Homo sapiens: one gene and its partner. The protein of the gene in region 1 binds, or shares a complex with, the protein of each later gene. Links are inferred from orthologs where the notes say so. Each region holds a gene or a part of one and is shown on either strand. Other genes may lie near its edges.

Evidence for each region. The genes of interacting proteins can lie anywhere in the genome.
Region 2: the proteins of SGSM1 (region 1) and RAB9A are in contact, whole or in part, in a crystal structure (PDB 4QXA), measured with the Mus musculus proteins. The link is inferred for Homo sapiens from one-to-one orthologs. Residues at the interface, in NP_766306.2 of Mus musculus: Leu256, Leu257, Tyr258, Gly259, Lys260, Asn261, Asn262, Tyr277, Asn294, Met297, Asn298, Gln361; in NP_062747.1 of Mus musculus: Phe37, Thr39, Ile40, Gly41, Val42, Glu43, Phe44, Leu45, Trp61, Arg68, Phe69, Leu72, Phe76.

The regions. Positions count from the first base shown.
Region 1 is NC_000022.11:24,809,208-24,812,956, forward strand, and holds part of SGSM1 (small G protein signaling modulator 1), read left to right. Parts: intron 1-3,749. UniProt on the Homo sapiens protein: Interacts with numerous Rab family members, functioning as Rab effector for some, and as GTPase activator for others. Promotes GTP hydrolysis by RAB34 and RAB36.
Region 2 is NC_000023.11:13,686,824-13,690,572, reverse strand, and holds the start of RAB9A (ras-related protein Rab-9A), read right to left. Parts: upstream 1,446-3,749; 5' UTR 1,285-1,445; intron 1,167-1,284; exon of another isoform or gene 673-1,166; intron 1-672. UniProt on the Homo sapiens protein: The small GTPases Rab are key regulators of intracellular membrane trafficking, from the formation of transport vesicles to their fusion with membranes.

The DNA of each region.
Region 1 (3,749 bases):
TCAGAGAGCCAGTCTCTAGTGGAACAGAAGGGAAAGCTCTTTGCCTAGAAATCTGAGAGTCAAATCAGATCTCCCTCCTCCCCACTCTCTGGGTTCAAAGGAGCCACATCTCTGCCTGTCACAGCCTCACCCAGAGACTGCATTGTATGTACACATATCTACATGTGTCTGTGTGTATATCTGTCTTCTGTGTGTACATCTGTTTCCCCAGCCTTCTTTCTAGAAGGAGTGCCTTAACAATCGACATCTCTAGATAGGCTGGGCAGCTCTGCAAGGTTTGCCAGAGCCACTGCAGCCACGAAGGGGCCAACAGAGGCTGGGAGCTGGAAACTGTCCAGTGCTGGCCTGGGGAGCCAGCTGGACACAGCACCCATGAGGCAGGTCAAGAAGAACTTTGGGCTCAACTAGAGCTGGATTCCAACCCCAGATGTGTTTATTTACTGAGGGCTGTGTGTCAGACCCTGGGCTAGGTTCTGTGGATATAGCAGGGACAGGCCCCTTGTAGATGGGCCCTGTCCCTGTCCTCCTGGGGCTGACCTTGCAGCGGAGGAAACACACTCCCAACAGTTACCTTATCAAAATTACAAGGATAATTACAGGCTGTGAACAGAGATGTGAAGGAGAGGCACCCGGGGCTGCAAGAACCCAAAACAGGGACAACTGACCATGTGCAGGGGCCCAGGATATGACGTTTCAGAAGACAGGTGCAAGATGAGTAGGACTTTAAGGTGAAGATAAGAGGGTTGAGAGACACTAAGAAAAACCATTCCTGGCAGAAGGTTTTGTACATGCAGAAGCTTTGTGGCTGGAGGGAACACTGTGAATTTGAAGGAACCGAAGTGACCGGAGCAGAGACAAAGGAGAAAGGTGCAGATGCGGAGAAGGCGGAACATGTGGTCTTATCCCAAAAGCAAGGGAAAGGAATGGGGAGGACATCGAGAACAGGGAAAGAAGGTGATGGAGCTGAAATTGCTGGCCTGTTCACTGCACAATCTTAGACAAGATCTGTCTTTACCTTTATCAGTGTGTGGGTTTCCGTTTATTCATAATGGGGATGAAAATGATTCAGCTGGCAAGATAAACCCTGCGAGAACACCCACCACGTTAGCCTGAGCTCCTCCAGGGCAAGCATCCTTTTTTTTTTTCCCTCTGTCCTCGGTACCACCAAGAGAAAGCTGGAAACAAGGTGGCCTCAGCGTGATTTCCTCCAGTTAAATCTGACCAGCTCTATCTTGGCTCCTTCCTGGCTTCCTTTACCCTCCCTGCCAACCCTTAATTTTGTTTTGGTTCCCAGAGCGAGCAGGGACTGGCTTCCCGTTGCCATAACAACTGCCATTAAAGGAGCCAGCCATGTGATGCCAGTTGATAATGGAAGCAAAGTGACTAACTGCCTTGTTTTCCTGCCTCTGGGCTGGGCCTAGAAAGCCTCTTAATTGGAGGGGAGAATGCAGGGGCTGGTGGGAGGCAGATGAGACCCCAGGAAGGAGACAGGGAGATGAGGCAGGTCCTGGAGTGGAAGCTACATTTAGCTCTGCGACCGGAGCTGGTGGAAGGGCTGTAATTGGGGAGCCATCATCATAGCTGCTGAACAGAGCCTGTTTGGAGAACTGAGCCTCCCAGCCTCTGGGTTAGGGGTGATGAGATGGGAGAGGCAGGCAGGACTTGCTAAGAAGGTTGGAGAAAAACGAGAGAAGCAATTGACGTTACCATGGGGACCCTGCAGTTTTACTGTGACCCAGTGGTTCTTAATGAAGGGGAGCAGTTTTGTCTCCCGTCCCTAGGTTTGGTTGCCAGATAACATCCAGGTCGCCCAGTTAAATTTGACTTTCAGATAAACAGTGAGTAAGTTTTTAGTATGAGTATGTGTTGCTAAATCTGGCAACCCTACTCCAGGGGACATTTGGCAATGTCTGGAAACATTTTTGGTTGTCACAGTTGGGGGTGCTATCAGCATCTAGTGGGAAGAGGCCAGGGATGCTGCTCACATTCCTGCAATACACAAGACACCCCCTCAGCCCACCACCACTAGGAGCACAAAGAAGTGGCCAGCCCAGAATAACTCTTGTTAAGGCAGGAAAATCTGCTCCCCGCTCACCCTACCCATCCTGCACCTGCTGCGCCCTTCACTTCTCTAGGCTAATTTGATACGAATGTACTGTTCTTGAACAACTCATTCTTACTGCTTTTAGATTGTCTTGAATGCATATTTGGAGTCTAAAGCCGGGGTGGGGGTGGGCAGGGGCAGGGAACGAAGTCTTGGCTCCCTAGCCATGTCATTTAGGGGAAACTTCCCCAGAATGCCTCAGTTTCTCACCTGTAAAATGGACTTAGGCCATAGAAGAGAGATTGGACTATGTAATAACATTAGCAATTCCTGGCCGGGCACTGTGGCTCATGCCTGTAATCCCAGCCCTTTGGGAGGCCAAGGTGGGATGATCACTTCAGGCTTGGAGTTTGGGACCAGCCTGGGCAACATAGCAAGACCCCCATCTCTACAGAAAACAAAATAAAAATAGCCAGGCATTGTGGTGCATGCCTGTAGTCACAGCTATTTGAGAGGCTGAGGCAGGAGGATCCCTTGAGCCCAGGAAGTTGAGGCTGCAGTGAGCTGTGATCGCATCACTGCACTTCAGCCAAGGCAACAGAGCGAGACCCTGTCTCAAAAAAAAAAAAAAAAATTATGACCAGGCATGGTGGCTCATGCCTGTAACAGCACTTTGGGAGGCCAAGCTGAGTGGATCACTTGAGGTCAGGAGTTGAAGACCAGCCTGGCCCAACATGGTGAAACCTCATCTCTACAAAAAATACAAAAATTAGCCGGGTGTGGTAGCATGCGCCTGTAATCTCAGCTACTCGGGATGCTGAGGCAGGAGAATCGCTTGAACCCGGGAGGTGGAGGTGGCAGGGAACTGAGATGGCGTCACTGCACTTCAGCCTGGGTGACAAAGCAAGACTCCGTCTCAAAAAAAGAAAAAAAAAAAGAAAAGAAAAATTAGGCATTCCTAATTTCCTACGTGTTTGCTGGGGGCTTCTGGCTTCCTCTGTGCTGGGCATTGTGCCATGAACTTTCTGAGCATTATCCCCTTCACTCCTCATAAAAGCCCTAAGGGAGAGAACCATCATCTCTTTCCATGATAGATGAGGAACTGGAGGCAGAGAGATGTTATGCAGCTCGCTTTAAGGTCCCACTGTCAGTCCGTGGAGAAGTCAGGATTCAAACCTCATGTTGCCAAGATCTAGGGGGATGGCCTCATGACCTTGGCTTACAGTGGGCAGTGGTGGGCAGCTATGAGCTTCAGAAAAGTCCCTGGAAACACAGCTTGGCTTCAGGCATGTGCAGGGGAAGGAAATGGGGCAGGAAAGGTCCATTAGTCCCAGCTTGTGCAGGGCTGTATGTGCCAGGCTGTGCCATTTGAACTTCCCATAGTGGATAATGGGGAGCTATAGAAGATTTATGAGCAAGGGAGGGTTTTGCTTAGGGCTGTACTTCAGGAAGTTTCAGCTAATAGCAGGGACCAGGATAGACAGTTTCTGCCAACTCTTAGAAGAAAACTTTCTCCCTCCCTCTGTTATTTTCTTTCTCCCCCACTTCCGTTCTTCCTTCCTTCCTCCCACAAATATTTATCAAGCATCTACTATGTGCCAGGCCCTGTTCTACAAGCTGCAAACTGAGAAGTGAGTAAAGCAATGTCTTTGCTCATATGCCCTCATTCAGTGTACAGTATAGTGGCAGGAGGGCATATAGAGAA
Region 2 (3,749 bases), on another chromosome or scaffold:
ACTAAGGTATTATTTCCCTTATCTCTAAAACCCGGCTTGGAGTCAAAGCCAATGATGTTCTACTTAGTGTTTGCCTATCTACTCTAACATTCCAAATAATAAACGAAAAAATATGCCCAGATCCCAAAAGTCTCCAGAAGAGAAACTTTGTAGTATAAACGAGGAATTTACCACAGCAGACACAAAAATACTAAAAGCACCAGACTGCCACAGCATTGTCTTAGATTTAGGAATCCAAATAACTACTAAAGTTCTAGAGAAGCAATCATGATAACTTCATAATCTTCTAAAGGAAAAACTAAAGGCTGGCTTCTTAAAAGTTCCTAACTGAATCGTTCCAGGTTTCTTTATCTCTAGTTTTGCTACACTGGACAGCTTCTGAGAGTACAGGCAATGTAGGGATTTTCCATTACAATGGTGCCAGAGACCGAAGGACAAACACATTTTTAAAGAAGCAATCAAATTCTGCCCATTGATTTTTATCAGGACGCTAAAATCCTATGAAAAGATTGTGGTCACGTGCCGATTTGGAAACTAGCAGAAAAGTTATTCCTCAAAAGAACTGTAGTCACGAGATGTGTCATCCCTTACCAAAAAAAAAAAAAAGCAATACGTCCACCAACTATTTATTAAGTTCAGCACTTAAATTTCTCATTTTGCCTTTTTACTTACCAAGTTGGAAGAAAAAAGGGAACGCGATTGTGAAACGTTAGCCAGCGTCTGAATCAGATAATGCCCCCAAAACGCCTGCAGCCTCTAAGATTGGCTTTACTTTCCGAATTCCTCACCCGAGTGGTCGTAAGACATCGAGCAAACACGTTCTGCTAGGTGGAACTTCAGAGGTCGCCAAAATCAAGTCATGGGAGCGCCTTTGTTTTCCCTACATTAATCATTCGGGTGTAGGATTTGGTTTGGGGTCTGTGGATGTGTGTCCCGGAGTGGTTGGGGGAAAGGCTGGCGTGTACGTGTGTTCCCAGGTGACCGGGTGTATTTCTCCGTGTGTATGTGCACGGGTGTCCGGGCTTTTGTATCTCCCTTTCTCCAGTGTTTGTGTGTGTTTCTGTGAGTCCCTCTCCCCAAGGGTGTGGGGACCGTCTTTCCTCCTGCGTCAGAGAGGAGGCAGGGAGACAACCAGCCGTCCTCTCTCCCGGGGCGGCCTTGTGACCCGCGCTAGCCCCGCGCGCACCGCACCCCGCCCCAGCTGCCCGAGGCCCGAGCCGCCCCCTCAGACCCCGACACCCGCGCACTCCGCCCGGTCCCGAAGGAGTCCCGAGTCCCGCTCACCTCGCGGCCACACGAAAGACGACCCGGGAGCTCTGGGCCGGCCCGTCTGGGCGCAATGAGGACAGAGAGAGGGTCGGGGACCTGCACAGCAGGAGGCAGCCGCGGTAGCGCAGCCAGGCTCCCGCTCCAGCTGCTCCCGTCCAGCGCGGAGGGAACAACATGGCGACGGGCCGGGGCGGGGCCAGGGAAAAAGCGGGGCGGGGCCTGGAAGGCGGGGTCCCGCGGCCGAGACCCTGGGGGACGGGCGCGGGGAAGGTGGAGCCGAGGCAGGCGGGGCCTGGATCGTGCTTTTCCTTCGGGTCGATTGCTCCTGAAGTGTCCTCCCGTCTGCGTTCGGGCGACAGCGAGTACGAAATAACTGTCATTTTGAAAAGTTTACGTAAAGTGGAAATAAACAGACCTCATGAGCACAGTCACAGGATGTCGTGATTACAATGATAAAAACGACTAGTCAAACGGACAAAGAACAAACAGGTGGATGAAAAATGAAAACAGTTGTGATACTGTGGAAAAACAAGAACTTTTTAAATGAAGCTATTAAAACTTTCCTTTAATCTTGTTAAAATACTGCCTCTGTCATCTCTGAATAGAAAGCGATGGTGCAAAAGGTGGTATTGGAGAAGCTCTCCTTAAGTCCTTGCTTTATGTATGAAGTTGAGTGCATGGATCCTATGATACAGAACCCTACAGGCGGGAGGGACTCATAGGGACATCTCAATACGTTTTGTACGGTGATTTAGTTTGTTTATCAGAAAACCAAATACTGCGTGTTCTCACTCATAAGTAGAAGCTAAATGATGAGAACTCATGGTCACATAGAGAGGAACAAGAGACACCAGGGCCCACTTGAGGGTTGAGGGTGTGAGGAGGAAAAGGAGCAGAAAAAAACTAGGTATCAAGTACTATGCTTATTACCTGGGTAACTAAATAATCCGTACACCAAGCCCTTGCAACAGGCAGTTTACCTACATGACAAACCTACACATGTACCCCTAAACCTAAAATAAAAGCTTTTTAAAAAAGATTTAGTCTGTTTATTTTCCAAGACAAAGATCTCACTTTTATGATGCTGGGGCTCACAACAAGTTAAATAATCTCCAGCTTTTTGGGGAGTCATTTTCAGGTAATGACTTTTCATTCAGCACTAGAAAGGTCATGTTTGAGAAAGTTCCTCACAAATTAAAAAGGCAATTTTAGAATGCTTCTGAAAACGACACATAAGCTTAAATAATTGTTTTCTCATAAACAGAAATCTATTTCTTATCTGCAGGTCATTTCCCCAAGGAAATATGTATAAACGTTTATAAAATACAAATCTGTTAAATTGGGGGGAAGAAGAAATATACACTATCTTGTTTTAAAACACATATTAAAAGTACACAGTAAAACATTATATATGAACACTAGAGTTAATTTTCCAATAGAAAAAAAAGTCATGTACATTGGGTCAAATTGCAACAAGCAATCCACAGGGTAATTAAAGAAATGCCACCTGAAAATCGTATATCCTAACCATAGTCAAGGAGTGATCAAATAGGAGTTTATCTGTGCAACTGCTAATGCCAACTAGCTATTAACAAGTGATCTCATAAAATTATTGTATTTTGAGTTAAAATAAACCTTGACAAACCCAACAGCTTTCATAAAAATGTTCTAAGAAGGTTCCATAAGTGACTCTCAGGCTGTTCCAAAATGTAAGAAGGCATTCAAACATATTTGAGTGTAGCTTATAGTACCTTAAGAAAGAATAAGCTTAGAAAGTTACTTTCTCTAAAATTACTATCAGTTGGATACTAGCCAACTGACATTTAAGAAAGTTAGTATATTCTGGTCTCTTCCACCATTCACTTCTTAACCACATTTCTATGTCAGTGCAAGAGTAAAGTGGGTTAAAAGATTTTTCTCTGAAGGGCAAGTTTGGGGGATTTTTGTTATTGGATGTGTGTGGTTGGTAAGCTGATGCAAGTTGGATAGACAGTTGCTATCTCTCTTGCTCCATAAACTTGTTCCTTGATGAAAACATTAAAGAACTAACCTAGTTTGACTCCCTTCATCTAACGAAGATTTTCATCTTTATATTCTGTAAACACCAATGCATCACTCACGGGAGAGAAAGAGGCCAAAGTTGCTATGCATAAATGATTCTTTTACTTAAATAACACCTACTTATTACTATAAGTACTAGGAGTTAATACCCCATCTCAAGCTGGAGACTGAAAGAAATCACTTCTGGCATCTCTGATGAAAAGCTACAAGTGGCTGGGCGTGGTGGCTCACGCCTGTAATCCCAGCACTTTGGGAGGCCGAGGCCGGTGGATAATGAGGTCAGGAGTTTGAGACTAGCCTGGCCAACATGGTGAAACCCCGTCTCTACTAAAAATACAAAAAAATTAGCTGGGTGTGGTGGCGTGCGCCTGTAATCCCAGCAACTCAGGAGACTGAGGCAGGAGAATCACTTGAACCCG